Linked DNA regions of Homo sapiens: all the other regions are linked to region 1. Evidence: fine-mapped expression QTL. A gene starts in region 1. Each other region holds a variant in brackets. All regions are shown on one strand. Distances are between the middles of the regions.

The links. PIP is the estimated chance that this variant, and not a neighbour inherited with it, causes the effect.
Region 2: its variant is fine-mapped to the expression of STEAP3 in whole blood (TOPMed, PIP 0.95).
Region 3: its variant is fine-mapped to the expression of STEAP3 in whole blood (TOPMed, PIP 0.97).
Region 4: its variant is fine-mapped to the expression of STEAP3 in whole blood (TOPMed, PIP above 0.99).

Annotation. Positions count from the first base shown.
Region 1 is chr2:119,220,073-119,228,056 of GRCh38, forward strand. STEAP3 (STEAP3 metalloreductase) reads left to right here and starts at 3,762. Exons shown (of 6, transcript NM_182915.3): 1 at 3,762-3,816. RefSeq lists silencers at 3,505-4,284, 4,345-4,414.
Region 2 is chr2:119,296,670-119,304,653 of GRCh38, forward strand. It overlaps C2orf76 (chromosome 2 open reading frame 76), which reads right to left. Exons shown (of 6, transcript NM_001322331.2): 6 at 5,556-5,879. The coding sequence ends at 5,803. Among named protein-coding and RNA genes, the nearest start is that of STEAP3-AS1, 52 kb to the left of the region's middle. The variant G/A (reference allele first, on the strand shown) is at 4,157.
Region 3 is chr2:119,316,853-119,324,836 of GRCh38, forward strand. C2orf76 (chromosome 2 open reading frame 76) reads right to left here. Exons shown (of 6, transcript NM_001322331.2): 3 at 4,302-4,352; 4 at 614-651. Among named protein-coding and RNA genes, the nearest start is that of C2orf76, 46 kb to the right of the region's middle. The variant C/A (reference allele first, on the strand shown) is at 4,493.
Region 4 is chr2:119,265,019-119,272,204 of GRCh38, forward strand. It overlaps STEAP3 (STEAP3 metalloreductase), which reads left to right. Exons shown (of 6, transcript NM_182915.3): 6 at 1-634. LOC105373581 (a long non-coding RNA gene) reads right to left here and starts at 5,988. Exons shown (of 2, transcript XR_001739666.3): 1 at 5,656-5,988; 2 at 607-4,486. RefSeq lists a silencer at 306-405. The variant A/G (reference allele first, on the strand shown) is at 2,271.

The DNA of each region.
Region 1 (7,984 bases):
CTTGCGCTGGCCACAGTTACATCTCCCTGCAGATACACAGATTCTCATGACACAGAGCTCAGACAGTGCTTCCTCTCTGGAGGGCTCATGTTTCGAGAGAAGACTGGAAGGAGGACAACCTTATGCTCCAGTAGAATTCCAAATTCTGGGGTGCAGGGACATTTCGTGTGTGTATGTGGAGGGGGGGGTGTCCTAATGCCCTGTAAGCCACACTTTATAATGCTGTACAATATTGGGTCACCATCATGGGCCATGGAAAGCAGAATCTGTGAGGTTCAGTCCCAGGCTCCAGCACCCCTTTGTCAGCTGGCCTCCCCGCTCAGTGCCCTCTCCCACTACCTGCCCTGCCTCAGCTCTGACTGCTGCTGATGTGCCTCCACCCATCAGGTCATTGTGATGGCAAAGACAATGCCTCCATTTGCCCTGAATGCAGCCTTACATAGGAAAGAGCTTCCTGTGCTCCAGAACTTGGAGGAGTCCTGCAGCACCTGGTCTAGTGGGGAGAGCATCAGTGGGGAGCGGCACCTTTCCTGCAGCCACGGCCCACTGGGCAGGACCAGATCCAAGTGGCCTGGCTTCTGGCTAGGGTGTCAGAGTACATTGGGGCATACAGCTTCCCGTGGCCATCTCGTTTTCATGGAGGATTTATTTTGTGAAGTGGACCTGCTCTGTCCCATCCTATAAATGCTGGATTAATCCAAGAAGCTGAGGGTGAGCAACATCCCTCTCCTTCCTGATCAAATAAGAAATAAATCTAGATTTTCTCCTGGATGCTATTCTCTTCTTAGCCAAACAGCTAACCTTGTCTTCAAGGAAAAAGGGCAATCCCAGGGGCTCTGTAAATTGAATATTCAGCAACTCCAGGGGCAGACATCCCTAAGTGCATAAGTGGAGCACCCCTCTGAATCAGCATCACACCAGCTGGGGGCATAAAAAGGAGAGCAGAGTAGGCAGGAGCTGTGGGGACATTTCTGAGATGCTAAAAGAGGCAAGGAAGTGTGAGGACGGGTGTGCATTCATGCAACAGGTATTTACTGAGCACCTACTATGAGCCAGGCAGTGCTCTATCCATTAGAGATACGGAATTGAATAAAACATAAAAATCCCTGCCCAGGAGGAGCTCACATTTCTATGGGAGAAGACAGTTACTGAAAAACAGTCCAAAAAACTCTATTTTATAGTGTGTTCAGAGGTAATACAGGCTATGGGGAAAAAAAGAAAGCAAGCAGGTACATGGATGAGGAATGGGGGCGATCAGCGTGGGCCTCACAGAAATGATGACCTTTCAGCCAAGACTTGGAGGAGGTAGGGAGGGTACCTGGGGATGCCTAGGGTCCAGGCAAGGGGAACGGCAGGGGTCAGGATCCTGTCAGATTCATCTGAGGTGGGACTGAATGTGAGCAGAGAGAGGGAGACAGAGGATGAGGGCAGAGAGAAGGCCAATCACACTGGGCCACGGCTATTGCAAGGACTTTACTTTTGCTGGGGGAGGGGGTAGAGTTTTGAGCAGAGGAGAAATGCGATCTGGCAAACATCTTGCAAGGATGGCTCTGACTGTTCTATCCTTGGCAGAGGACACCAGAGTCTGGCCCATAGAAGGTGCTCAACAAAGCTCAGCACATTGCACTCCTCCCTGGAGTAGGAAAGGGCTCGTCTGCTTTGGGAAATTTGGCTCTCAAGCTTCTGGAAACACCTGACCCCATGCCAGGTGAGACAAGCTCACACTCAAGGCCCCCTTAGTCCAACGGTCAGTGGACAGAACAAGCACCAAAGGTCAACGGCGTGGGCGGTGGCCTCTCTGCCAAAGTGTGTGGGCCCAAGTAGGGTATTCACCTCCCTCCCTGTCTGTGAGAAATTTCAGACCCCTCTACTTTTTCCAGCAGGAGTTCATGTTCCTTTTAAGATAATCCTCTATAGACCTCTGGCAGCCCAGCCTTCAAAATGTCTCCCCCTGTCTCTCTTACTCATGGAGAGCCCCGCTTCCCCGCCTCAAAAAAAAGTCTTCCTCTCTCTTACTCATGCATGGAGAGCCCCACAAAAAGACACTGGTTCCCAGGGATTCTTCCAAAGATGCTGGAAGACCTCTCAGTGTTTGCATTTCCCAAGCTCGGTTTCCTTGTGCTGTCCTTGGGCATTAAAGGAAGGCTATTCAGCCATCCCCATCAGCAGGAGCAGGCATCAAAAGAACAGCTACTGCAGGGGGAGCATATTAGGGGCACCAGAGGGGGCTAGGAACTGGGTCTTGTCTTCTCAAAGTTTACAACCCACTGCAGGGGCCACTCACCAGCCCTGGCACCCTAAGGGCAGGAACCTCCATTGGGCACGTGTGTCTCCAGCACTGGGAGCACTGTCTGGCACCTGGGGCACTGTGAGTGTTGAATGGATAAAGGACCTGTAAGAATTGCCATAAGAGGTGTTGCCCTGGGGCAAGGTGGGACAGGAAAGTTCTTGCAAGAGAAGAGAGGCTCTGGCCTTGGGCCCTGGCTGAGCAGAGAGCTGGGAGGTGGGTATTCGGGTAGGAGGAAAGCTGTGGAGGGGGAAAGCAAACTGCCTGCGGGGGTGGGGGGGTTCTCGGCGGGAGTTGGGGGTGGAGGGAAAGGCGCTTTACAGCAGCACTCCCTCCACAGGGAGACCAGAGCTCTGCCTCTTCCTCCCCACCGTGCCCTTTGGGGTCCAGTTGTGGGGCCTTCCTTGAGGCCCAGCTCCTGCCTCTGGCCTCCGGAGGCTTATCTCCCCAACAGAGGCTGGCTCCCCAGAAAACAGGATTCTTAGACTTCCTAAAAATAACCTGAAGCTCCTTATCAGAGGCTAATAGTGTATGTCTCCCAGGAATACTCTAGAAAGAGTACCAGGGGTCAGGAACCCCCACTCAGCCTCCACGAATCTGAGCGGAAAAGCCCGGGTCTCCTCACCTGTAAAGAAAATAACTGCAGCCGGCAAATGTGACCACAGGTGAGAAGGGGCTTCGGACCAGGGCGCACACCTCTAGAGAGGTGCCCACAGACAGCCTCCCCTTACTTACGCCCTGCTTCGCTGCAGTGCTGTGAAGCCATCGGCATTGGAAGTGCGGAGGGCAGCGGGCAGTGCCCCAGGGGGAAGGGGGGACGGGTAGGGTTTCAGAGCCCAGAAGGCCTAGACAGGGAGGCAGCTCCGGGAGAAAGGTACCCGCCATCCCACCGGTCTTGGAACCTGAGGACTGCTGGGAAGGGTCAAAAGTCTGCCCTAAGGGTGGACAAGGGACAGAGATTGGGGGGGGACCACAAAGGCCTGGGCGCAACCTTGTTGAGAGGGAAGGGATCCGGACCCAATCTGGAGCCCTGGTCTCTTCCCACCTGCAACCGTGGCTGCCACTTGGCCTCGGTTATAAAATGGACAAGGATTCGAGGTGCTCCTCAGGTTAAGAGAGGGGGGCCTAGAGGTCACCCTGGCCTCGGTGCCCTCCGTGGCCGGGTTAAGAGGAGGTCCCGGAGTTCTGCTCACTTCAGCCGTGTGCCGGGCACTGCAAATCAGGAAGTGTTGGCGCCGGCTGGCGACCTCCCGCCTGGGGCCAGGGGAGGAGGGTGGTTGGACGCTGCCACCGCTGCCGGGGCTGTGCAGGGCTGGGCGGGGAGCGAGGACCCGGCGGCTCCTGATTGCGGCCCCGGGGGAGGTGGCCGAGCCGGATAAGCTGCGGCGGGCTGGAGGGCGGCCACCTCCCCTGCAGGTCCGGCCCTCCCGGGCGGGTGGGGCGCGGGGGAGGAGGAGCCTCGGGCCGAGCCACCGCCTTCGCCGCGGACCTTCAGCTGCCGCGGTCGCTCCGAGCGGCGGGCCGCAGAGGTGAGTGTACCCTCCCCCGGTCTCCGCGGGGCTGCGTGCTGCGCCCGGTCCCCGAGACGCCCGCCCGGTTGCACCCTGCGCCGTCGCTGCGCGGACCTCGGGTGCCGCCACACGTCTGGAGGCGACTTCTGTCCCCTGGGACCGAGCCACGTGCGCCCGGCGGCAGAGAAACCGGGTTCCGGGGCCCCCACCCCGTGTGCCTTCCTTCCCTAGGCGTGGAAGCCGCTTGCGCCGCGCAGGTTAGGCAGGGCCGGCGGCGACAGTGGCGGGGAGCAGGCTCCGGAGCCCCGGGTGCAGATGTGGGCGCCCCTCCGGATGACCCCGGCTGAGTCCACAGGTCCCGTGTGCCCCACGGCTGGGGCTCTGGCCAGCGGTCCCAAAGGAGGGCTGGTAGCTGTGGGCGGGGATCTTCCAGGCTCTTCCTCGCCAGACCTCCCAGTCCCTTCGCAGCCGAACAGGGCAGGGACAGGGGCAGGTGCAGGGGCTGGGCAGGGGCGCCCGACCTTGGTCCCCAGGAGGAGGCTGGCCTCACCAGTGCCCGCCTCTGCCCGCGGAGCCCTTGCCTGGCAAAGTTCCCCCTCCTGCCCGGCAAAGCTCCCCCTCCTGCCCACTTCCCCGAAATTTGGGGACAGGCTGCCCGGAGAGGTGTGGTTGGAACTTTGGTCACTCTGGGTAAATGAAGGGGAGGGTGTGCCCAGATAATATGCGGTTTGGGGACCAGAAAGCCGGATCCGTGGGGAGAAGCAGGAAGGTCCCGCTGGAGCCCTGGCAGAGGGCACAGAGAGGCCTCCCAAATATCCAGGGCCACCTCAGAGATGGGCTCCAGAAGTGGGGATTCTGGAAATGCCCCCAGGGAGGTATTTCTGTCCATCAGAGTGCAGCCATAATATAATTAACAGCAGATATTCCCATTTATGTGTGCCAGGCATCTTGCTAAGGGCTTTGAGCACAATATCCCAGTTAATCCTCACAACAGGAAGGCACCATTATCTCTTGTTAAAAATGGGGAAACAGCCTCAGAGAGTCCACGTATTTTGCAAGGATACACAGCTAGGAAGTTGCAGAAGTAGAATTTGAACCCAGAGTTATCTGACTTGGAGCCCAGAGGAACCTACCACTGGGGCGAAACAGGCTGTGTCCTCACGGGGATTCTGGCAGCCCCAAGAATACAGTGCTGAGAGCCAGAAGGTCCACAAAACCAAAGGGTCTCACCTGGGTGTGTCCTCTCAGTCACCTGCAAGGCTTGTTAAAAATATAGATCCCCAAGTCCCATCCGAAGCTGACTGAATCAGCTAGGGGCACCTGGAGGACCCAGACTATGTCTTACTCATCTCTGTCCCTGGTGGCCTGCAGAGGGGCTGGCAAGGAGCAGGTGCTTAGTGAATGTCTAATGGGTAAGTGGGCGGGGTGGGGTAGATGGTGTCACTAGTGTCCTGAAGGGGGCTTAAATGGAGCAGGTGGCCTCAGCCAGGCAATCCGGCAGCAGGTATGGAAGTGACACAGTCTAATGCTGGCCTCAGAGCCAGCAGGGAGCTCAGGCTGGGCCACTTGTCCACCTGGGGGTTGAACAGCCTGCCCCAGGTTTGCTGAGGTCCCCAGGACCAGGCCAGGTCAAGCTGGGATCACACATGTTCCCTCTCCAGCCTAGAGATGTCAAACAGGTAGATTCCTCTCCCATTCATATCTCCTATCCTTGGCCCACAGCCCTTCCCTTCTTGGACTTATCAGAGACCAAGGTGCTGGGCAGGGCTTCAGGTGGTTAAAAAGTGAAAGTTCTTGAGTGAAGTCCAAAGGCGCACACCTGAGAGCTGAGTGGGCAAAAGGTCGCTGGCTGAGTGCTGGGGATAGTCTGGCTTTGGAGTCAGATGGACGAGTCCAAATCTCAGCTCCTTACCCCGTAACATGAAGCCCTCAGCTCTCTGAACCTCTGTTTATTTGCAAAACCTTGCCAAGGGCTTCAAACAGGATATCCTCATAAAACAAGTATGCCTATTTGGGGGACTAAGTGTGTGAAGTGCTGAGTTTTAGGAGTGCAGTAAATATCGGATCCCTCCTTCTTCACCTCAGGTTTGCGAGTTAACCAGTGAGGGGCCTTCCAGGCCTAGTGCTCTTGTAGACCGAACCACTAGCTTTCCTAGAGAAGGCAACTGAGGCCTAGAGAGTGGCCTCCAGGTTCCGTGCTCTGTGGCAGAGCTGGCCTTGGCTCCAAGTCCCAGGGTTCCCAGCTCAGTCTCAGCTGATGCCTCCCAGCCTGGCGGTCTACGCTGCCTGCTACATTCCCTGTCCAGCTACAAATGAACAACTGAGAGGGCTGGGGTGAGATTCAGGCAGGCTGGGGCAAGGGAAGGAAGCAGGTCATTTGGGGAGTCGGGCTCTCTGGTCTTCCAGCTGAGGCTGGATCCACTCTTTCCTGTCCACCCACGGTGCGTAGTGGCCAGGTCTTCCTGAGCTGAGCAGGTTGAGCACTATGAAACTGCTTTCTAGCATCTAGACCAGGGAGTTGCCTCTTGATTTAAAATGAGGATGTTTACCAGTTTAAGTAGTTATTAAAACCTAAGGCCAAGTTGGTGCCTTTCCTCCCTCTAGGAGTTGGAAGGGTGTGTGCTTTTTTCTGCTCCTACCCCACCCCTGCCAAACCATCCCAATTTGAGAGGCTGTGGAGATTACAGAACTTGGAGAGGAGAGGGGCAGGGATCGGGGTTGGAGACTAGATGGTTTTCAAACATTGGGCTACAGAAGTCCCTCTTCCTCCCATCTGTCTCCTGCAGCTGGGTCCACCCACCTGTCCAACACAGCCTCCCACAGGTCCCGGGCCTCTTTGTGCTCCAACCGTCACATCCTTGGCATGCCACACACCCTCACCATCCTGCCTGAAATGCCAGTCCTCATCACTGACATTCAGCCTCCCATGTGCCAGCATCCGGGCCAAACACTTTATCTACAGGAGCTCATTTGTACCTGGAGACTCTTAGGAGGTCGATAATGTTATTCTCCCAACCATGTGACTTTCCAACTCCATATGGACCCCAACCTCTTTTTTTCCACCCCTAACCTGAGACTCCTAGCCACTAACTAACTGCCACATTCTCCTGTCCAAATTCTGCCTCATCGGTTATTCATTCAACAAACACTTACCGAGCACTAACTTTGAGCCAGGCACTCTAAGACCAGCTGAGTCCCACTTCTGGCAGGATGAGTGTTGTTGTCATCAACCACCCCACAAACACCCGTGCCCTCTGCGTACTTGCGAATCTGAGTGAGGAGACACGGTGGCAGTAAGGCTCAGGACCTATAGCTCATGTGAGTGAGCAAGGATGCAAAACCAAAGACACCCGCTCCCCTCACCCACTGAGCTGGAGGGATCAACCACTGTGCCTGCCATCAGGGCTGATGGGCGACTGCTTGTGGATCACAAACTCTTGCGTTGTCACTTCAACCCAGGGGCAGAGTGTGTTCCTCTTCAGGTGTGGCCTGGTCTCGTGAGCCCTGCACTGAATGGGCCAGGCGTTCATTGCTTCAGCACCGTAAGAACACTGTCACCGGAGAATTGTTCGATACTCAACTCTTCCCAGTCAGTCTGTCTTCTGCATGCCCACAGTTACCGGGCAGCGTGGGCAACAAGTGAGCACTGATTGTTCCGCAATCAGGCTGTGACTTACTCCATCTCTGCCTTCTGCTTAATGAGAGCCAGGTGGGAGTTCAGCAAAGATCACATGTTTAAGCCTTGTTATTAAACACGTTAAAAAAATACTGCCCCAAGATTATAAAGCCGACTTCGGTACATATAAAGAGATTTGGGGTCGGTGAATGGGCCCACTAAGCTTTATTTTGTGGTGTCAGCTGTCTTGGTTCATGTGTAGACAGCAGGGCTCCCAAAGCCAGCATGCTGGGGTCTGTGAGGGAACAAGCTTCCCATTTCTTGTATTTATTTATTTATTTATTTATTTATTTATTTTTTGGAGACAGAATCTCGCTCTGTCACCTAGGTTGGAGTGCAGTGGTGCCATCTTGGCTCACTGCAACCTCTGCCTCCCGATTTCAAGCAATTCTCCTGCTTCAGCCTCCTGAGCAGCTGGGATTACAGGTGTGCTCCACCACACCCAGCTAATTTTTGTATTATTAGTAGAGATGGGGTTTTGCCATGTTGGCCAGGCTGGTTTTGAACTCC
Region 2 (7,984 bases), 77 kb after region 1:
GGGGCAGGCAGAAAAAGAAGGAAAAGAAAACCCGTTTGCTACGGCAAAGAAGTTCCTCAAAGTCACATGAAACCTGGCCCAACTCGTGGGACCAGGGCCCAAGTGTTCCTTTGGCAAAGGCAAGTTCTCTTCAAAGGAGAATAGAAAAATGCCTGTAAAGGGGCGCCAACAATGCAGATGGGGAACTGTCTCTTGGCTGTGGTTGACCACCTTTCTACCATGTTTCTCCTAGTGCCCAACTCCCTTTGTTTTCAAAGAGTGGCAGAAAGTAGGATTTGAAGCCAGAAGAGACCTGCTCTTTGACTTATCAGATCTTAGGCCTTGGACAAGTGGCTTAATCTCTGAGGGTGAGGGTTCCTTGCTCCAAAATGAAGTTGCTGCTGCTGCACTCACTCTCACAATAAGTACCCGAAGACATGTAATAAGTGCTCACTTCCTGCTAGGCTCTGTCCGTAAGTGCCTTGTAGGCAATGTCCCACTTGATCACAAAACTCTGCAAAGTGGCCCTTATTATCTCCTCCATCTCACAGATGGGGAAACCAGGACTCCTCAGAGCTCTAGCACAGTCTACTGTGTGGATTAAATGAGATAATATAAAATACATACAGTGTCTGACACACAATGGTGATTTTTTAAAAAATGAGACTTCTCAACCATCTTTAAGAGAGTGATCATGCTTTGAAATGCATAACATGACAATGCTTTAAAATGCATACCTATATGTTTAAATAACATATGTGCAAAAAAAGAAAAAAAGGTCTGAAAGTATGCTCACCAAGCTATGCAAAGGAGTGACCTTGCAAGAAGAGGATTTTTACTTTTTTTTAATCTTCAGAATTTTGTTGTTGTTGTTTTGAGACAAGGTCTGGCTCTATAGCCCAGGCTGGAGTGCAGTGGTGTGATCTCAGCTCACTGTAACCTCTGCCTCCCAGGTTCAAGCCATCCTCCCTCCTCAGCCTCCTCAGTAGCTGGGGCTACAGGCATGCACTACCATGCCCAGCTAATTTTTGTAGAGATGTGGTTTCACCATGTTGCCCAGGCTGGACTCAAACTCGTGAGCTCAAATGATCACTGGCCTCGGCCTCCCAAAGTGCTGGGATTACAGGTGTGAGCCACCATGCCTGGACCAGAATTGGTTGTTTTAACAAGCAAATGTGACTTAAAACACATGAAAAAGCTCAGAAACTCTAAAAAATAGACATAGAAAAAATAACCTAGATGGAAATATGTCAAAATGTTCATGGCAATTGCCTGATGGATTTTTTCTGCTTCTTTTGATTTCTATACATGTTTTGGTTTTGTTTTTACTAATTCATTTTTTATGAGACAGGGTCTCACTATGTTGCCCAGGCTGGTGTCAAACTCCTAGGCTCAAGCAATCCGCCCCCCTCAGCCTCCTGAGTAGCTGAAACTATAGGCATGCATCACCACACCTGGCTTGCTTTTAGTCATTCTTAACACAAATACATTCTCCTTATGAAATTATGGCATACGCCTTTTGTGTTTTCAGAAGGCCTTCTCTACCCCAAGGTCACAAATATAATCCATTTTTTCTTCTAATAAACTCATCATCTTGTTTTTCATGTTTAGTTATTTAACCCATCTGAAATTTTAGTGAATGGTATGAAGTAGGACCCTTAACTGTTTTTTTTAAATACTTGGCCATGTGCTAAATAATCTTCCTTTTCCTCATAATTACAAATACTACCTTTATTAGCTATTGTTTCCATGTAAATTTTATTAGTTTCCATATTCTATTCCATTGATCATTTTATCTAGTTCTGTATCATTACCAACTTGTTTTGATCACTGAATCTATTTTGACATCTAGTAGGCAACCACCCTTTCTTCTAGCCTACGTTTTGTTTTTCCAAATTGATCTTGGCTATTCTTGCATATTCTTCTTCCAAATGAATTTAAAAATCAATTTGTCAAGTTCCATGATAAATCCTTTGGGATTTTGATTGAGACTGCATTTATTTATGGATTAGGTAGGTATCTTCCATCTATAAACATGTAATCTATCTCTATTCAGGTCTTTTATACTCATCTAATAACACTATTTTATAGCTTTTGTGAACAATACATTTTAGGTTCAGCACTCAAGTCTCTTAGTTCAAAAAAAACTTAATCTTCTTGCAATCATATTGTCTACAAATGAATGTTTTGCCTACTCCTTTCCAATATCTGAGAATCTTACTATTTTTCCTACTGGCTACAATAAGACTTGCAGAAACATACTGAATAGTACTGGCAATAGTGTTCATTCTTGTCTAATTCATATTTTTTGTGCTGGAGTGCAGTGGTGCAATCACAGCTCACTGCAGCCTTGACCTCCTGGACCCAAGGGATCCTCCCACCTCCGCCTCCCAAGTAACTGGAACTACAGGGGCAAATTACCACACCCAGCTAATTTTTTTTTTTTTCTTGTAGAGACGGGGTTTCATCCTGTTGCCCAGGCTGGTCTCGAACTCCTGAGCTCAAGCAATCTTCCCGCCTCAGCCTCCCAAAGGGCTGAGATTACAGGCCTAAGCCAATGCACCCAGCCGCAGCCTCTTATTCATATCTAATAGATTTGCTGAAACACTTCTCCATTAAGTAGGTTTTCTATGAGCAAACTTCATCAAGTTAAGGGTATTTCTTTCCCTTGCTAATTTTTATATATGCATGAGCAAGAATATCATCAAATGCCTTTTGGCATCTATTGAGATAAACATAATATTTTTTCTCCTATATAGATTTTGAAAAGTATATTGAGAGATTTTCTAATTTTGAATCAATCTTCCATTCCTGGTAAAAGTCCTTTTTAGTCACAATACATTTTTATTTATTGTAAACACAACAGAAATGTCTTTTCTCATAGCTGTGGAGGCTACAAGTCTGAAATCCAGGTGTCAGCAGGGCTCTGCTCCCTCTGCAGGCTCTAGGGAACAATCCTTCTTTGCCTCTTCTAGTTTCTGGTGGTTGCTGTTGATACATTTATTTTTGATTTTTTTTCTGTATTTATAAGTGAAAATACTCTATATGTACCTTTTATAAGAAAAATACATACCAAAAAAGGTACTATACATACATATTTTTGCATTATCTACTTAAAAATGCACAGGTAAAGATATGCTTAATTTTATATTTTAAAAAAGCCTGGTATGCAAATTGAATGCGTGCAAAGCAAACAAATGGAATATGTTTTAACCTCTACTTATTGAGTTCCCTATTTGGATTACTGCTGCCATCATTAATCCAGCCACTCAACTCCAGCAAGAATCACTGAAGTCTCCATTCCTTCCTCCCCACACTATCCCCGTCCAGGCATTCACCAGGTCCCAAACATTCTAAGGTCATTCTACCTCAGGTCTCCACTGGGAGGCTGCAGGATGGAATGGGGGAAGTCAGGATTTTAAGACAGATTTGGTTCCAATCCCATTGCACATGACTGCATTCTCTTGAGCAAATAACTTTACCTCTCTGGGCCCCAATTTCTTCATCTATAAATATACATGCTACCATTGAAGAACTGTGGTAAAAGTCAAATGAGATAACATATGTAAATTAACTACCACACCATATTTGCCACGGAACGCACGATCACATGGTAACACCAAGAACCTCCCCAATCCTCCTCTTCCCCTCGGCCCCTGCCCTAGGCCAGGCCTTCCAAACTTCACCTGCTCAATGATGTCTTCTAGTCTTTCTGCCACCTGGACATTGCTGACAAAGCTCACTTTCTAAAATATAAATGGAATCAAATACCTGTTTAAATCATGCTACTGGCTCCCATCTACCTACTAGATACCGTTCTAACTCCTTAGCATGACTTGTAAGGCCTACCTCAACCTACCTTTCTGGCCTTATCTTCCTCTACTCTGTTCCATGTACTTTACACTCCTGTATAGATGCTCCTCAACTTACAATGGGGTTAGTCCCAATAAACTCATTGTTGGTTGAAAATATTATCTAAGTGAAAAATGCATTTAATACACCTAACCTATCAAACATTGCATTAGCTTAATCTACCTTACATATGCTCAGAACATTTACATTAGCCTAGAGTTGGGCAAAATCATCTACCACAAAGCTGATTTTATTGTAAAGTATTAAATATTTCATGTAATTTATTGAATACTGCACTGAAAGTGGAAAACATAATGGCTGTATG[G/A]GTACTCAGTGTTTCTACTGAATGCCTACTGCTTTCATACCACTATAAGGTCGAAACATCATTAAGTTGCACCATCTATAAAAGTCAGGGACACTAAAATTTGCGCTTTCTCCTGAAACCTCAAGCTCTTTCACAGTCCTTTGCCTTTGTGTATGCTATTCCCTCTTCCAGAAAGCCTTTCCCTTCTTTTCTTCTAAGCAAAAATTCCCATTCAATCTTCTAAGACACAGCTCAACTGGTACTTCTTAAAAACACACACACACACACACACACACACACAACTAATTTCTGTCAACAATGCTCTGATGGCAGCTTTTTCTGCTATTCTTAAAATCATTTGCTTGTACTATGTCTTTCTCCATTCACTGAGGCAAAAACTGGGTCTTATTTTCCTCTTTATTAACTCCCCCAAAACTACATCATCTGTGTATTCAACACTTTGCTCCTGAATGAAACAATGAATAAAATAAGTAGAATTTATCTTAAAGAAGACCCTATTAACTTTTTCAACAAAGCAAGGCATCTTCTAATCATGTTAATCAGAGTTTCAAAGTTGATTTGTTAAGAAATCATAGGTTTTCTTAAGTTAGACGTGACCATAATGAAACCAATTTGCCCTCCTGGCAACTCTGAGGACTCAAGGAGCAATGGCAGAGCCGGCTAAGCCCTCCGGCACTCAGGGAGCAATGGCAGAGCTGGCTAAGCTCTCCGGCACTCAGGGAGCAATGGCAGAGCTGGCTAAGCTCTCCAGGACTCAGGGAGCAATGGCAGAGCTAGCTAAGCTCTCCAGGAGTTCTGATTAAATGCAGCCTGACTGAAAGGCCTCTGAAATAAGGACTCCACAGGTGCTGGCGGTCAGCCATAATCAGGAACCACAAGTATTATATTATTTAGAAGGAATGTATCTTCCAGGACATAGACTTGTTCTCAATGAACAATTTTCTTCCAGAAGTGCAAGCATCCTGCCGCTTCCTCTCTCCAAATAAATGAGTTTGATTCTATGATAGTTTCTTCCTGAAGATGGAAAACACAGCTCAAGAAAGAAAAGAAAAAAAAAAATCAGCAACATTATTTGTATAGGCTGCAATACTTTAAAAAAAAAAAAAAAGTAACCTTCCTACATCATAAAACCTCCCTAAAATATACACAATTCAATTGCACATATGGTGGTATGTATCACACACCCTGAACTAAAAGGTAGCCATGAAGGTCAAGAAACTCAGAATTTCTGGTAGCCACAGACAGAAACAGTTGCTCTAATTAGAAACTACAGAAAAAATATACAATAAACAGTATGATCTTAGTCTTAGAATCTTTTTAAGGAGCTCTACATGCAAGTCACAAAAATAATTCCTAATTTTAGAAAACAAATTATAATTTAAGAATCAATATTCCACAATAATTTTTAATAACAATTTATTTCCCTTTAAAAAGATCAAATGTTTTTCTCATAATATATTATTTTACAACAACAAAGAAAAAGAAAGAGAGAAGGAAAGACCTGAAGAGAAAGAAATAACCAGATTTTAGCTCAAAGAGTATAGCCTGGGATTAATTTTTTAAGATTTGTTTGTCAATTTCAAAAATTCAGCAGTGGAATAAAGAGCTTAATACAGGTATGCAAAAAGGAAGCCCTCGAGATGTTTTCACCAGGATGAAATGGGATTAGCTTTGTAGTTCTTATAATCTTCTTCACAGAAGAATGCAATTTCAGTTTCACTGGCTGAAAAAAAACAGAAAATGGAAAAAAAGATTTTAATGTAAATCTAAATTTTAAACAAGTATGGAAATCCATATGACTTTGATTCGGTATTTCAGAATAGCTTCAGATGCCCAAAGTGAAAAAGATGAGTTATTTGTTGGGTCGCACAATGCATTTTACCAAATCAACAAGAAGTTTCAGGTGAAGTTTTAAGAATCAAAACCTCAAATGATTTAAAAGTAAAAAAGAACAAAAAATAAAAAACCAAAAATTAAAATCAAGAGTTAATACAAGAATCTGGTTTTCAGGAAATCATAAAATTGCTCATTTACAGTCTTTTTTACAGTGCTAGGAAATAAAAAACCTTGATTTTTTTCTCAAATATGCTACTCAGGTACTGAAGGAAGGGGAGGGAAAACTCTTTTCCCCCCCTGAAATTAGCCTGTAGGTATAATAATTTAATACTTAGAGGATCAGTAGAATATTTTACAGATCACTTTACATTCTCCCTCATGACCCATCAAAATATGTGTCTGAAGAAGTTAATTTTTTGCCCTGCTTATGATTAATTCATGCGGCTTCAACAATATGCAAAGTGAAAGACACAAATTGGCTTCTACCTCAATACCTTCAAATACCTCTAATTATTCACAAGGGAGATGGCACAGCTAAAGGACCCATGAAGGTTCAGAGCAGTCACAATTCTTTCAACCTAGCAGGTCAAGGACTGCGTCTTCTATAACAATAAGTCAGCAACATTATTAATTCAGGCTAGAGACAAATCTGATGGAAAGCCTTCCAGTTATTAAACATGCAATTCTTTAAGGTGTTGTGCCAACAAGTTCCACATTCATTTTTCAAATTAAACCAGAAGTTAATACAGTCTGCTTGGCTTTTACAGAAAGAGCAAAAGGGCCTTCAGAATCTCCACAAGAAAACAGACAAGATTATTCGTAATGCATACTGAGCACTCAATTAACATACTCTCTAAAAACAGACAAGTAAAACTCTCCAAGTCAAATAAATAGCATAATAAGAAAGGGTGCCAAGGATTACCACTCGTCTCTTAGTTTACAACTCTCATCTCATCATTAGACTTTATCACAAAATAATGAAATTAATGAGATTAGCATGCCATTTCATTAAAAATGTTTTTGCTGTTTTCAAGAATATCCAATTTAATGTTTGTTAATCATAAGCTACCCATGCTCATTACAGAAAATAAACAAGTGTCAAAAGAAGAAAATAAAGCCACCCATAGTCACAGATCCTCATTCCAGTCCTCTACTATATCTTCAAGATTAAATTTAATCTGAGTAGATGAAAATCAGACTGCAACCTCGCATGACAAGGAGCCTGTGGGGGATACAGCACAGAGAAACTGGAGATCAATAAGGAGGAGCTGTAAAAAGATGCACCCTGTGCAAACAGTAAGTTAAGGTACAGTTAAATTTTACAAGAAAGTGGCATCTAAAAGAATGGGTAAAAGACTCCTCCACACTTGGAATCAGTGGGAAAAAGAAAATCAAGAAAGAGAGCTTCAAAAACTTCAATATTCAAAGATATTTGGAAATCTATCCCTTATAGAAAAAGCTCCTGGGGTTTCCTTTTTTGAAGCAAAGCATGCCCAGAGGTAGATGTATATAATTTGCAAGTGATTCTAATCAACCTTCTAATGAAGAATGAGCAAAAGACACCCTGTTCTTAATAATCACAGAGCAAGGTTTTATCTGTGATGTGCTATTTACATACAGAACTTTACACAGTGCTTTGCCCACACAGCACTTCGCTCAGTCCACGCTAACTGTAATTACAATTTTCACTTACTGCAGTTGACATTTATCTGAACCCCTTTTGAGAAACTAATATGTTGTGTGGCTCTTCAGCAATAGTAGGTTCAGAGAAGCTGCTGGAAAGCAAGGAGTTCTGTTTTGACACATAGGTTCTTTTGGATCCAGTTAACTGAAACATCAATCCATTATTTACATAAGGCATTTATGCTAGCTCTCAAAATGAGAGTCTGCAGTGTAAAGATTTTATTTTCAGATGACTGCACTTGTTTTCAGGAAATCTAGGTAAACAAATGGGTTAAACTATAATACTTCAGGCTGATTTAAAAAATTTTT
Region 3 (7,984 bases), 97 kb after region 1:
ATCTTTGACTGTGGCTTCATAAAAACGTTACTCTAAAAAAGTAAAAAAACAGAAATATAAACACACAACAAACCCATAAATAAACAGCTCTCTTTGGGAAAGGTAAGACAACTTCAGGATTGCAGGCCATGGCCTTGGTGGAGCTAAAAGGTGTGTTCCCAGAGCCACAGTTCTGTGCCTTCTCTTATACACAGCAAGAATCAAATTAGAACAAGTGAATTATTTGTGTCTGCATCTGGCCCTTTTGTTCTGGTACAGAATTAAGAAAATCAAAGACACTGGATTGCCAGATAATAAGCAGTTTCTTTTATCTGTAAATTGAATTTACTTTTCCAAGTTTTATGCTTATTTTATGTTAAATATGTGCTTGATAAACAAAATATGGTATACTTTTTTTAATTAACACTTTTTTAAAAAGGACCTACTACTAACAGGGAAATAGCTTATTTTTCTTCAATGAAAAAGCTAAGGCAGTAAAAAGGGTACCTACAAAATAAAAAGCGCTATTATAATGGGAAATATTTTAGATGTACATGTATTCATTCACTTATTCACAAATTCAACCAACATTGATTACTTGCTATGTGCCAGATACTGTACCTGTGGAACATACCTTTGATTTATGTGCTTGATGAATAATCTTTAGTGCATCTGAAAGAAAAAAGCAAGTTATCTTTTTACACAGTTTATTCTAAACTTCTTTTCAAATTATTAAAATGGGTGGAGGGTGGCTACGAAATTGAGAAATGTAAGTCCTTGTTTTATAACCAGACTCATTTAGAAATATACTATACAGCAAAAGAAAAATTACTTCTGTAGATCATTAAAACTGAAGTAAAAGATCTTTATCTTTTAAAGCCTTGGTCTTTGACACACAGCAGTGTGTGTGTCAGAACTTTTTGTCAACTCAGCACATTTTTTCTTAGAATGGAAGACAAGCAAATCAGATTACTGTACCTTGTTTTTTTGGAGTCAATACAGAACAGGATTAGCAAATAATGTAAAAAAAAAAGTCTTAAAATAGACATTAGCAAATGCAGTTCAAAAAAATCTATTCAGATGAGATATAATGACAAGAGAGCAAATGATGATACAGGTGTTGCCACTCTCAGTATTCAAACACTGTATCTAGGACCACCGGGAATCTGAGCAAGGCTGCTAATGCCCCAGGAATATCACTATCTGTCTCTTGGTTTGCAAATACTGCACAGGCTCACACCATTTCATCTGCTCTATTCAAACCCAACTTCACTCCTTAATTTGTTTATCTTGAAGTCAGGCTACACTGTGCACTTCCAGTAAGTAATTTCTCCACACTTGGGTAAAATTCGAACTCAGCAACAATCAGCCCTTAATTACATAATCTACACAGCCATTCAACAGGTTGAAATTCAGAAAGTTTCCGATTCTTCACTCGTTTTTATTTAAACATTTAATGAATGCATTATGATTACAGTGTATTATTGAATAAACTCCCAAACTTAAACTAAAACTCATTCCTATCAATCACGTTGTAACAAGGAATTCCAACAGTGACAGGAAATGAAAGGATCTATTTTTAAAACAGACCTTATTTAACTATGTTCTCATAATACACAATAAGGTGGCTATCTAGATAAGAACTAGCACTCTGAATTTGCCCATTATTTTAAATAGTCAACTTTCAGTTATCTATTGCAATTTTTTTTTTTTTTTGAGACGGAGTCTTGCTCTGTCGCCTTGGCTGCAGTACAGCAGCATGATCTCAGCTCACTACAAGCTCCACCTCCCAAGTTCAAGCAATTCGCCTGCCTCAGCCTCCCGAGCAGCTGGGATTACAGGCTCCCACCACCACACCTAGCTAATTTTTGCATTTTTAGTAAAGACAGGGTTTCACCATGTTGGCTAGGTCTCGAACTCCTGACCTCAGGTGATCTGCCCTCCTCAGCTTCCAAAGTGCTGGGATTACAGGCATGATCCACTGCATCTGGCCTTGTAATTTTTTATACAAGGTCAACATAATCCTCAGTAACTCTGTATTCCTAAGAAATAAAAATAAATCTAACCTAAGTAAAATATGCATATTAGGGATGTAAATAAACCATAATTGCTAAAAATAAGCTTAAAATGTGTGTAAGAAAATAAACAAAGTTGACTTTCAGCTTATCTAGTATTCCAAATTACCTATCATGTCCTTTTTCTTACTATAGATATGTTTATTATTTGAGACAAGTGAGAGAAGCCAATAGTATTTTTAAAATAACAGGAGCTCAAAGTCTGTTGCAATCAACCTGCAAAACTATAGTCTGACCTTACTAAATATTAATCCTGTTCTATATATTTTGCTAATGAGCCTTTAAACTAGAAATCCTGCTGCTCTAATAGGTTTGGCAAACACACAATTAAACGGCTACATATTTTAGCAGAAAAAGAAATGTTTTGAAGAGAAGTTTTTGCCAGATTTTTCTCTCCAACAGAAAGGGGTGTGACCTGAGGAGTGGGTAAGAAAGGAGAAATGACAAACCAGCAGAGAGATGTATTACTGTCCCTTTCTGTGTTGAATAAGCTGCTTCCCTTGTTCTTGCTTCTTTCAAATAATCCTCATAATTATCACAAACAATACCTGTGGGCATTGTTTTCTTAATACAAATTCCTTGAGGAAAGCAACCTCATAAAAATATCATCTTGTATTTGTGGAGCATCACACACAGCTTTATGAAACAGAGAGGGATGAGCAGCCCACACTGTACAACAACTACATTCTTGTGTGCCCTCATGGGTCATGTCTAGGCGATAGGGATTTAAGATAAGTAGCATGCGTGGTAAATCAATAATAGATGTGGATGCCAATTAAATGGGAGGAGGGCTCTGAGATATCTCAGGCTCTTGGTGGCAGAGAGAATCAGCCCTTTGCCAAAGGGTAGGGAGACAGTGACTGGCAAAACTGAAATCTGACTCCACACTCTTTCCACTCCCGAATACCTAACAAAGTGCCCTGTCCCGCAGACCGTGAGGTGGCAGTCCCGGATGACAATGACAGGTGAAAATAACACTGCAGCCTTTCTTGTTCAACAGAAAGCAGAAGATTGTTAAACAGCCAAGTTCAGACAAAGCCACTTGAAGTCTATCAAAACTCGAGTGGTTCTATAATTTCTTCACAAATAAATGTATTCATTTTTTCTGCCAATTCATCTGAATAGTATAGAAATACTAGGGCAGAAGGAAGTTAATAAGATAGAATAGTCTAAAAGGTACATTATCTACCACAATAATGCTTAGCAACTTGGATATTCTAACGCTTTCATTATCTAAAATTTCTTTCAAAAGAACTTACATGGAACACAGCTTTGCACATAGACATATAGATACACACATACACACACACCATGAAAAAAGGAAACCATATGTAACTATTCTAATTTAAAATGGCATCTGTAAGTTGATTCAAGTTTAAGGCTATATTTCAAGACATTATACTTTGAAAGCCTTGAAAGCCACAATTGAGAAGTTTCATATTTACCTTAATCATCCTTTTTATTCCTTTATCTTATTCAATATTGAGTATGTAAATTCTTTAAGCCCAATAAATCAAAGTACTTTCCACTCAGTGCCTTCAACTTCTGCTTCACTACCCCTTATAACCTCACAATTAGTTTCTGGATATTAAAATGCATACACACGGCGAAGATTGTGATTTCAAAGGATTTTAGGTCATAAGTTGTTCTATCAAATGAGAACAGAATGAAAAGCCACTCCAAAAAAAAATCTAAGGTAATAAAAAATTTATACTTTAAAATGTCTGCACCAATTAAGAGAAATATTTATTAGGTGCATCATACCTTTCAAATGAAGTCTCAAATTCAAAGTTTGGTGAGTGTCACTCTGCTGAAGGTTAATAACTGTGCCATCTTTATAACAAATAATGAATGACAACATCTAGCTTCTTACCTTATTACTCCATTTTTAAATCATCAATTGTAACACATAAAACTACTATATAACATGCTCAAATTATTGGCATTTAAAATGTTAAATCCCTTCTTTTAATTCTTAGTCTTCAATCATTTTTCCTTTTCTAATTACCTGGCAGAGAAACTCGTTTTAAACACAGTTTTGGCAAACATGCTACTCTTTGCAAATACGCCACTTCCTTACTATTACAATTCATTTCAGCAATATACTAGCATTCCTGTATTTCTAAATAAACTTCCAAATTGGTTTTTATTTACAGATAGTCATTTTTGAAAACAAAATTTAAGTTTGTAACAAACTAATGCAAAATTGTATTTATATATATTTTAAAAGAATAAAAAAATGGTTACCATATTTATAATTTCTGAATGGTGGTGGCAGGTTGGTCCTTAAAGGGATATCTACAAGAGAAAGATTATTTTTTTACACAATAAGCAAATAGACACTCATAGAATATGCACAGTCTTTTGGTTCTATTCTTTTCTATCTACAGACTAAGTTACCTTGAAAAACCTGACAGAACACAGAATAAATACATCAC[C/A]GAAATCCAAGGGCCATCTATATTAGTCCATTCTCATACCACTATAAAGAAATACCCAAGACTAGGTAATCTATTAAAAAAAATGTTTAATGGACTGGGGAGGCCTCACAATCATGGCAGGTGAAAGAGGAGCAAAGGCACATCTAACATGGCGCCAGGCAAGAGGGTCTGTGCATGGGAACTGCCCTTTATAAAACCATCAGATCTCACGACACTTATTCACTACCGTAAGAACAGCATGGGAAAAACCCACCCCCATGATTCAATTCTCTCCCACCAGGTCCCTCCCCTGACAGGTGGGGATTATGGGAGCTACAATGCAAGATGAGATTTGGGTAGGGATACGGCCAAAGCATATCACCATCTAAAATATTAGAGCTATTGACAAGATGTTGAGTTGTTACTATCTGAACTAAGACTTCAGTAACACTATTAAAAGAATGTTTAATTTCATTAGACAACAGTATCTATGTATAGTTAAAATATATACTAATACACTTGTGTGAGACATATATATATATATATAGCTGATGTTTGTTTAGCATATGAATCTGAGAGCCCCTTATGGGTCTTTGGCCATTAGTGGAAACCAATGATCTAGAACAATCTTATTACTCCACCAAAATTCATATAACCAACAAAATAACTCCTCTAACTCCTCAAAGACAACAAAACACAGTAAATATTCTTTTAAAAACATATTCCAAATGCCAGTACTAATTTTAATTAATATCTGCTGGTACAACACCTAACAGAGAAATGTGTGTATATATGTGTATATATATATATATCTCAAAATTACATATGCACATACTCCTTGACCTAGCCATTCCACTTCAGAATCAATGAGTGAATGAACGAATTTATTGATTAACTGATTGACACAGGGTCTCATTTTGCTGCCCAGACTGGAGTGTAGTGGAACAAACATGGCTCACTGCAGCCTCGACCTCCCAGACTCAAGTGATCCCCCTGCATCAACCCCCCAAGTAGCTGGGATTACAGGTGCATGCCACCGCACCCAGCAATTTTTTGTATTTTTTTGTGGAGATGGGGTTTTGTCATGTTGCCCAGGCTGGTCTCAAACTCCTGAACTTAAGCAATCTGCCCACCTTGGCCTCCCAAAGTGCTGGGATTACAGGCATGAGCTACTATGCCCAGCCGGAAATTTATTATCATAGAACTATACTACACACGAGTGTGTGTAAAATGACATTCATAGAAGGGTATTAACTGCAGCATTGCTCACAGCAGCAAATGTTAGGAAAAGTCCAAATGTCCTTCAATTAGGTACTCGTTAAGTAAATCATAATATGCCCAAACAATGAAAAATACTTTTCAACTGTTAAAAGAAAAAGAAGGAAGCTCTCTACTAACATGATAAGATCTTCAAGTTACATCAAGGCTAAAGAGATATGAGAGAACATTATTTTTAGGAAGCTACCTTTTGAGTAAAAAGGGGGTAAAATGAGAATTTATGGTGGGATTTGCTTGTACTTGCTGAGTGGGGGGTGGGGAGGGCAGGGGGGTGCTGCACTGGTCAGACAGAGACCAGAAGGGTAAAGGAGACTTTTCACTATATTCCTTTCCACATTTTGATCTTAAAACCACATGAATGTGTTACCTACTAAAGAAAAGTAAAACAAACAAAAAATATCCACGTATCTAAATTAGGAAATGTGAAGGTTTTTGAGACAGGGTCTTGCTCTGTTGCCCAGGCTAGAGTGCAGGGATGTGATTATACTCACAGTAGCCTTGACCTCCTGGGCCCAAGCGATCCTCCCACCTCAGCCTCCCAAGTAGCTGGGACTACAGGCGCTCAGCACCATGCCCATAGTCCCGGCATTTTTTTTTTTTTTAATAGACAGGTTTCACTAGGTTGCCCAGGCTGATCTAAAATTCCTGGGCTCAAGCAATCCTCTCACCTCGCCCCGAAAGTGCTGGGATTACAGGCATGAGCCACTACACCTGGTCAGGAAATGTGGGTTTTTTTAAAATGCTTTTTCAAGATCAAATACGTATCAAATTAAAATATAATTGATTAATTTATGTTACAAGCATTTAAAGCACCTACTACCAGGTATTCCAGGAACAGAGTAAAAGAGGAGCTGCCCACTCATGACAGCGTGTGCTCCAGTGGTGAATGCTGTAACAAAAGTACGTTTCCAGCCAGTGCTATGGTCCTAGGAGTGTGGTCCTCACCCCGGCTGCACGTCAGGATCACCCAGCCTGGCACGAGTGGATCTGACTCACGGTAGGCTGGTCCCAGGCAGAGATATTTAAACACAAAACAAAACAAAACAAAACAAAAAAAACCCTGAGATGATTCGTACTCAAATTCACCCAGAGGCCAGACAGGTGACAACAGGTAAGTGAAGCAGGTCAAACAAGGAGGGGCAGTGAGATCTGAGAGCATGCGCCCATCAAAGGGGGCTCTGCCAGTCAGTGCTGACTGATCACAGTGCTGTAGGAACATGAGCCTGGAGTGGCCACACCTAAAGATTTAAATGGCAATGCTACAAGTCTAGGGTTTTAGGTGAAATTTCTTGACTTTTAAAACACTATAGGCCAAAAGAAACCTCTCTGGAGGCAGGATTTGCCTGCCAGATACCAATTTGAAACCTCTGGCTTAGGCTTACCAGAGCATATGTACTTCATTTTATTCTTCTTGTGTCTCCATTATTTGTGAATTATGGGCCAAAGCAGTATTCATTCAACATCAGAAAGGAGAATTAATTCCATTTAATGTATTGACATTTATATTTCCTGAATTAGACAATGAAACTCCCTGAAGAAAGCCGTGAGGTGAAGAACAGATGGCCCCATGAAGCTATTATCATTTAGAGATGTCTACGACTGAAGAAATCAAATCAGTCTTATGTTCAATCCAGACTTCTGAGAGAAGAGACAACGACCAGGACACAGCGAGCACCTATTCTCTTCCTGCCTTTACATCTTAACTGAAGTGCCATCTCCTCTGACAACCCTTCTAAAGCGGGGGTCTTCTCTGATATTGTTTCCTTCATAACAGGTTTTACAATTATAGTTTTGTCTTTTAACTTATTTTTGTCACTATTTCCTATGAATTTATAAATTCCTCGGGATGAAAACGTGGGCTGTCCTCTCAAAACCTAGGACCATGTCCGGCCCATAACAAATTATCACAAACTGCTTCCATGAGGGCAGGGACCACAGCCTGTTTTCTTCATTGTGTTGTCAGAACCTAAAATAGTGCCTGGTACACAGCATGTGCTCAAAATATTCATGAAAGAATACATATAATTTAATGCCTACAGTTGCCAGTGGAGAACACTGAGGTCTCAAGAAGTGCCTGGTCAGCCCAAGGTGTCAAGAGCTGGGACCAGAACCCTGCCCTCTCGACTCCCCTCCTGCAGCACTGAGAAGGGTGGGAACTAAAGCAGTTACCTTCCACAGTGGCAGAAAGACAGATTAGACATTAGACACACTCCAGTGAGATAAGAGCTTTAACCA
Region 4 (7,186 bases), 45 kb after region 1:
TGGAGCATCAGCTGTGGCCCACAGAGAGCCTTGCTGAGAAGGGGGCAGGTAAAGCAGAGATTTTAGCATTGCCTTGGCATAACAAGGGCCCATCGATTCCCTACTAATGAGAGGCAGGGAGAGCATGGGCAATGGAGACCCACCAATGATCCCCAACCCCGGTGGGTACTGGCTGCCTGCCCTGGGCCAGGGAATGGCTCCTTATACCAAAGATGCTGGCACATAGCAGAACCCAGTGCACGTCCTCCCCTTCCCACCCACCTCTGGCTGAAGGTGCTCAAGAGGGAAGCAATTATAAGGTGGGTGGCAGGAGGGAACAGGTGCCACCTGCTGGACAATCACACGAAAGGCAGGCGGGCTGTGTACTGGGCCCTGACTGTGCGTCCACTGCTGTCTTCCCTACCTCACCAGGCTACTGGCAGCAGCATCCCGAGAGCACATCATCTCCACAGCCTGGTAAATTCCATGTGCCTCTGGGTACAAAAGTGCCTCAACGACATGCTCTGGAAATCCCAAATGCCACAGTCTGAGGTTGATATCTAAAATCTATGCCTTCAAAAGAGTCTCTGTTTTTTTTTTTTAACCTGGTAGACAGTATAAAAGCAGTGCAAATAAACACCTAACCTTCTGCAAACTTCAGGCTTTTATTTCTGCCATGTAGATCACGTATCCATTCGTCCACTGACTCGAGAAGCCTTCAGCTTGGAGCCTGCTCTCAGGCAGGCAGTGTGCAAGGACTTGGGACTGCCAAGGTGAACACAGTGATCTGTGCTAGAGCTGGCCAATGAGGAAGGGCAGATGTGCAGACCTAAGGGACTAAGGGACATGCCAGGGAGGAAATGGGCAAGATCCAGGTGACAGAGTGTCGGGTGGGGGTGTGGGGATGTGAAAAGGTGGCTTCCTGGAGTGGTCTGAAGGCTGAGGCCTCGGTGCAGGTAAAAGCAGCAGAGCTTCTTGAATTATAATGTGCCTGGGAGTCACCTAGGAATGTGGTTCGAATGCGGGTTCTGATTTGTGGTCTGGGGTGAGGCATGAGACTGTGCATTTCTAATAAGCTCCTGGGTGACCTGTATGGTGATGATCCTCGGACACTCCGAGCGACAAGAGCTTAGATGGCATTCTTTGCCTCTGCTGTGCTTAGTCTATGGCACACTAATCTGTACACACACATCTCTGTCCCCTCAATCCTCCCCATGAGCCTGCATTCCCCTGGCAGCCCTGGCAAGGTACACGTCTGTACAATGCTATCTATGACCCCCGTGTTCTCTTAAAGGCAGAGGGAGAAACACTCCATCTTGGAGCCACAGCCTTGCACTTTGTGCTTCACGAGGGCTGCGGCACATTGGCCCTGGGTCCATCAGGAAAACAAAAGGAGCTCTCTTCAGAGACCACCCAACTACCATGCAGCCGAGCCTTCCTGCTGAAGCAACCAGACTGCCTTATGGTACAGGGCAAGGGGGCAAGAAACCCAGTGCAGAAAGTGGTCTAGTGGCTAAAAACCATTTCTTGGGAACAATAACCAAAATACAGCCCTGCCATTTTGAGTTCATTATAAGGATTTTCCAAAGAAAGAACCATGGCCAGTAAATACATTCATGACAAACAATTTTCAAGGTGAAAAGCATCTTGTCCTTGGAGGTTTACTTTTCTCCTCTGTGTCCTCCCATGCATAAAGCTGAGAGAGTTAACTTTACAAAGAAGTAATCAAATAGATGAAAAATACCCCCTACCAAGGTAGCCCATGTAAGAACTAAGGAACCACCAAAATCACGCATATCAGTTCAGGAGAGAAAGTTATCATTTAGCTGTTTGACACGTTGAATCTTTTCCAAAAGCAATGAAGCTAGCTCTTGGAGTGCAGAAGCTCTCTTGTGCTGGGCCACTTCCCTGGTCTCAACCAAGAGAGAGTTGGCTCCACTAAAGCAGAAATTCTCAGTCCCATCCACAATCACTGACTTCTTCTAACAAGTCTTCTGAAAATCTCTTTACTAATTTCTGAAATGAAATTCAGAAATAATATAACCTACCTATGCATATAATTTTTAAAATCAGTGTAAGGTCTAAATTGAAACATAAAGTAGAAATAATTTACACTAATACATATATAACATTAATAATGAATAATTATTATATTAATAGCCTTACAATAAATAAATTGGTTTTTAAATACAGTATATTCAACTAAACATTGTTGGCTCATTTGTAGCTGACATTTTAAGATAAAAGTGCGTGTGTGTGTGTGTGTGTGTGTGTGTGTGTGTACTGTGTCC[A/G]CTGTGAGTGTTTGAAATTGTGTTGAATGCTATGAAGAAATCACATAGGGTGAAGACCAATAAATGTCAACTAGATTTGGAAACATGGAAACCTAATGGTGAGAATTTCAGTAGGATGTTGAGGGTAAAATCCAGATTGAGTATGAATAAGAAGGAAATGGAGACAGTAATACTGGACAACTCTTCTGAGATTTGGCTGTAAAGCAAGGGAAAGAGAAAGGATGGGTAATGGGAGGGGTATGTGGGGGTTGAAGGAGGGCTGGTTATTTTTTTCCATGGTTCTGACCTAAACATGTTTTAAATGCTTCTGGGGAATAAACAAGGTGAAAAGGAATGATGGAAGATGAGAGAGAGAATGATAGAGAATCACAAAGTCCTGGAGGACATGGGAAGAGATGGAGTGCAGAGTACAGGTGGCTTTAGAGGAGGAGATTGTCCTTTACAACTAGGAGAGAAGGGGAAAAGAAGTGGCTGAGTATTGAGGGGAGGGGCTAGTTGTGATGACACAGCATGTGACAGTTCCCTTCTGATGTTGTCTGTTCTTTTTAAAAAAACAGTCAATCCCTTCTGCTGAGAACAGGGGAGGAGGAAGGTTTGGCTCTGAGGGCTGAAGAGGGACAAAATGGCTGAAAATAATTGTTGGAGAAAATGTAAAGGGAGCAGACCAGAAAAACTGATAGGGTTTAAAAAACAAAAACAAAATTTGATTATAACCATTTTTTATCCAGAGTGAAATATACCAAATTGTGTTTCCTGGGAAGTGTGCAAAGTAGATTTTTGTTTAGTTAAATTCCATTTTCCCTCACCAGTTTCTTTAATAATTCTAGGTAGTTTGTCTTAGTTCAGTGTCATCTCTAATAGTCACTCAGAAATGCCTTGGCTTCATTTTTGTTTTCTCTATTCAGAAATGAACAGTCACAAATGGAACTTTGATGCACTAGGCAACCAAAAACTTCCATTGCCAATCCTCCCATAAAGTGAATAATCAACACTCTTGCTTATTGAGGGTTGATTGCATTTATTGGACCAGAAACCTAACTTATATCTATAATTCTCATATATGAAGAGTCTATTCTTAAAAATCTAATTTTAGCCAACATTTAAAACTTCTGCAACTAAAGAATTCATGTGGGCTTTTAACTTCCTGAAGGGTCTTCCTGCTTAAAACACAATTAGTTCCTAAACAAAAGACATACTTTTTAAGGCAATACTGAATTTGCAGGAAGTAAGGGAAATCATCAGGACAGAAAATAAATGGGAACACACACAAAAATCAAAAACAAACAAACAAAAAAAAGCTCTCCTTGGCTCCTGGCAGAAGCAAATGCAAGTCCTTTCTGAAGAAAAGCAACCTCAGTTCAGATCAACCAAATAAGAAGCTTAATATTTACAATTAATAAACCATAGGTGAGACTCAGTAGAAACAAAACCTGAAGGACTTCGAAGAACAGAATCGTCAAACATACGATAATGATATATTAAGTATCTAAAGAATTAAAAAATAGAGTTGCAAAAAATAAATAAGCAATAATATACTATAAAGGCACAGGCATGATGAAAAATGGAATTTTCAGAAATAAAAAATTGTCAGAAACAAACTTAATTTGGTGAGTTTAACAGCAGATTGGAGAAAATCGTGAATTTTAAAAGCTAAAAAAATTACCCAGAATGCAAAAGAGAGACAAATGGATAGAAAATATAAAAAAGTCATTAACAGAGATAAAGGTTAAAATGAACAACTATAACATACAAATAGCTGGAGTTCCAAAAGGAAAGAATGGTGAAGAGGCAAATTTTAAAGAGATAAAGACCAAGAATTTTCTAAAACTAGTGAATTACTGGTATCCAAAAATGCTGAAAGTGCAATGTATACCATCAGGCAGGAAAGCAAATTTAAAAGTAAAGCTACAGTTAGCCACACTAAGCAGCTCTTAAAAGCAGTCGAGAAAAATTATAAATGACCTACAATTGTGGAATTACAACAGACTTCTTAACAATATCAATGGAGATTAGAAAATAGTAGTCTAATATCTTAAAAGTTCAGGGGGAAGTGATTGCCAACTTAGAATTTTAAATCAAGCAAAACTGACTTTCAAGATTGAGTGCAAAATAAGAATGTTTCAGATTACAGAAATTGAGAGCTTACCAACAGTTCTTTTCTGAAGAACTTCTAAAAATATACTTCAGATAGAAAGAAAATGATCCCAGAGGGGAATCTGAAAACAAGAAGAAACAGTGAGTGAATAAGTGGTGACCCTCAAGGTAAATCTAAGCAAACCTTTTCTCTATAGAAGAAGAATATCTATGTAAGTGTTTTTTTTTAAAGGACATACTAGGCTGGGCACGGTGGCTCACGCCTGTAATCCCAACACTTTGGGAGGCCAAGACAGGTGGGTCACCTGAGGTCGGGAGTTGGAGACCAGCCTGACCAGCATGGAGAAACCCCACCTCTACTAAAAATACAAAATTAGCTGGGCGTGGTGGCACATGCCTATAATCCCAGCTACTCAAGAGGCTGAGGCAGGAGAATTGCTTCAACCTGGGAGGCGGAGGTTGTGGTGAGCCGAGATAGTGCCATTGCACTTTGGCCTGGGAAACAAGAGTGAAACTCCATCTCAAAAAAAAAAAAAAGACATACTAACTGGCTAAAAACAATGATATGTAAATAAGGGATTGAGTTAAAATGTTCTGAGGCTCATATTTGTTTAGAGGTTGGGGTTGGGAAAGTTATGGGCTAATTTAGATCTTGTTAAGTACATCTAGAAAAATGTCAAGGGTAACCATAAAAAGCTAAAAGTATAATGCCAAAATCCTTAGGAAGGGAAAAAAATTTTAATTGGATTTTTGAAAAACAAGAAACAAGAAAAATAGCATAGGTAAAGCAAGACACAGAAAACAAAAAGTAGGTATTAGAAAAAATCCACATATATTCATAATTGTGAAACAGAATACCATGCACTGGTATCAATCCTTATGAGGGGCACACCATATGTTGGATACCAGGAGAGGACTCTAAACACTTTGCCAATTTTTGTAAAGATTCCTGTATCTGGTGGATGCCCAGGTCTGGCAGGAGTCTTTACACAAACACAGCTTCTAAAGGTTTTGCACAAACCCAGCTGCCGGAGTCTGAGTCTGGTATGACAAAACACCTGCACAAGTCAGGCAAAGCCGACTTATTACTCACAGATATGTAGCAAAGATAGAAGCATAGAATCCGTGGGGAGCTGGTCCCCCAGAACTCAAGCAAGCTGCCCAGGGCAGACGGAATCCCATCTGCATATGCCCAACTTCACACTACAGCTGAGGGACCCTGAAAGCAGTCCACTCTGGATTTTATACCCTACAGGTACTTAAATCACTGAGCTTAAGCATTGCAGAGCACCTTGTTCTGAGAGGAACAAAGACAAAGCCCAGGCTGTTCTAGATGGTTCTTCCTTATCCCAGGATGTTACATTCTCAGTACATTCTGCCCAAGAATTGTAAGAAGGAGCAGGGAGAGCTGAATCAGCCAAGGTCATTCAAGGACTTGTCCTCCTGCAATAATCACAATAAATACAAATGGATTAAACACTTCAGTTGAAAGATAGAGATGGTCAGATTGGATTTTAGTTATATTTATAAGTGGCATACCTAAAGACTCAAGGTAAAGACATGGAAAAAAGTAAGTTAGGCAAAATCAAACTAAATTAACATTGGAGTGGCTAGATTATTATCATATAAAGCATATTTTATGAGAAAAGACATTATTAGGAATACAGAGAATTACTACATAATAATAAAATAAAGATTTAAATATTTTAGAATAATGTGCTTTTAATAATATAGCCTCAAAATATGTAAAGCAAAAAAAAAAAAAGAAAGAAATGTGAACAAATCCCTCATTATACTAAGAGATTATAACAAACAGACAATTATATGCATGTGTGCACATGTATGTGTGTATAACAACACAAGTTGGATATAATACGAAATAGAAAAATTATATTTTTCTCAAGAAAACAAATTGAAAACATATTATACCATAAAGCAAATTTCAATAAATTTCAAATAATAAGTATCGGCATTCTCTCAAGTGAGTGCAAGAAAGTTAGAAATCAAGAACAAAATGCTATATATATGTGTGTATATATATGTATACATACATATCATATATATGTATACATACATATATATGTATGTATGTATACATATATGTGTACACACACATATATATCATATATATATATTTATATTTTAGAGACAGGGTCTCACTTTGTCACCAGGCTGGAGTACAGTGACACAACGATCACAGCTCATTGCAGCCTCAAACTCCTGGGCTTAAGCAATCCTCCTGCCTCAGCCTCCTGAGTAGTTGGGACTACAGGCACACACCAGTGTGCTCAGCTAATTTTTAATACTTATTTTTTAGAGATGAGATCTTGCTATGTTGCCCAGGCTTGTCTCAAACTCCTGGCTTCAAGTAATCCTCCTGCCTTGGCCTTCCAAAATGCTGGGATTACAGGCATGAGCCACCATGCCTGGCCTAAAATGCTATATTTTAAATGTCTATACATTTTAAAGCTTTAAATACACATTTCTAAATAAGTCATTAATCAAAGAGAAAATTACACTGAAAATTCTTCAAAATTTTTAAATGTGAATGATTATTAAATATCTTCATATCAAATATTTAGAGATGCAGCAAAAATACTGCTTGGAAGGAAATCAATAACCTTGATGAAAATCAGTACAAAAAGAATCCAACCCACAGAAAGTAAAAGATAGATACACACAGAAAGATATACTGAATGTAAGAGTAGAAATTAGTGAACTAGGAAACAAAAATATAATAGAGAGGATTGACAAAGCCAAAGGTTGGTTTTTGGATAAAACTAATCAAACAGATGAATCTCTGATAAAGCTGATCCTGAAAA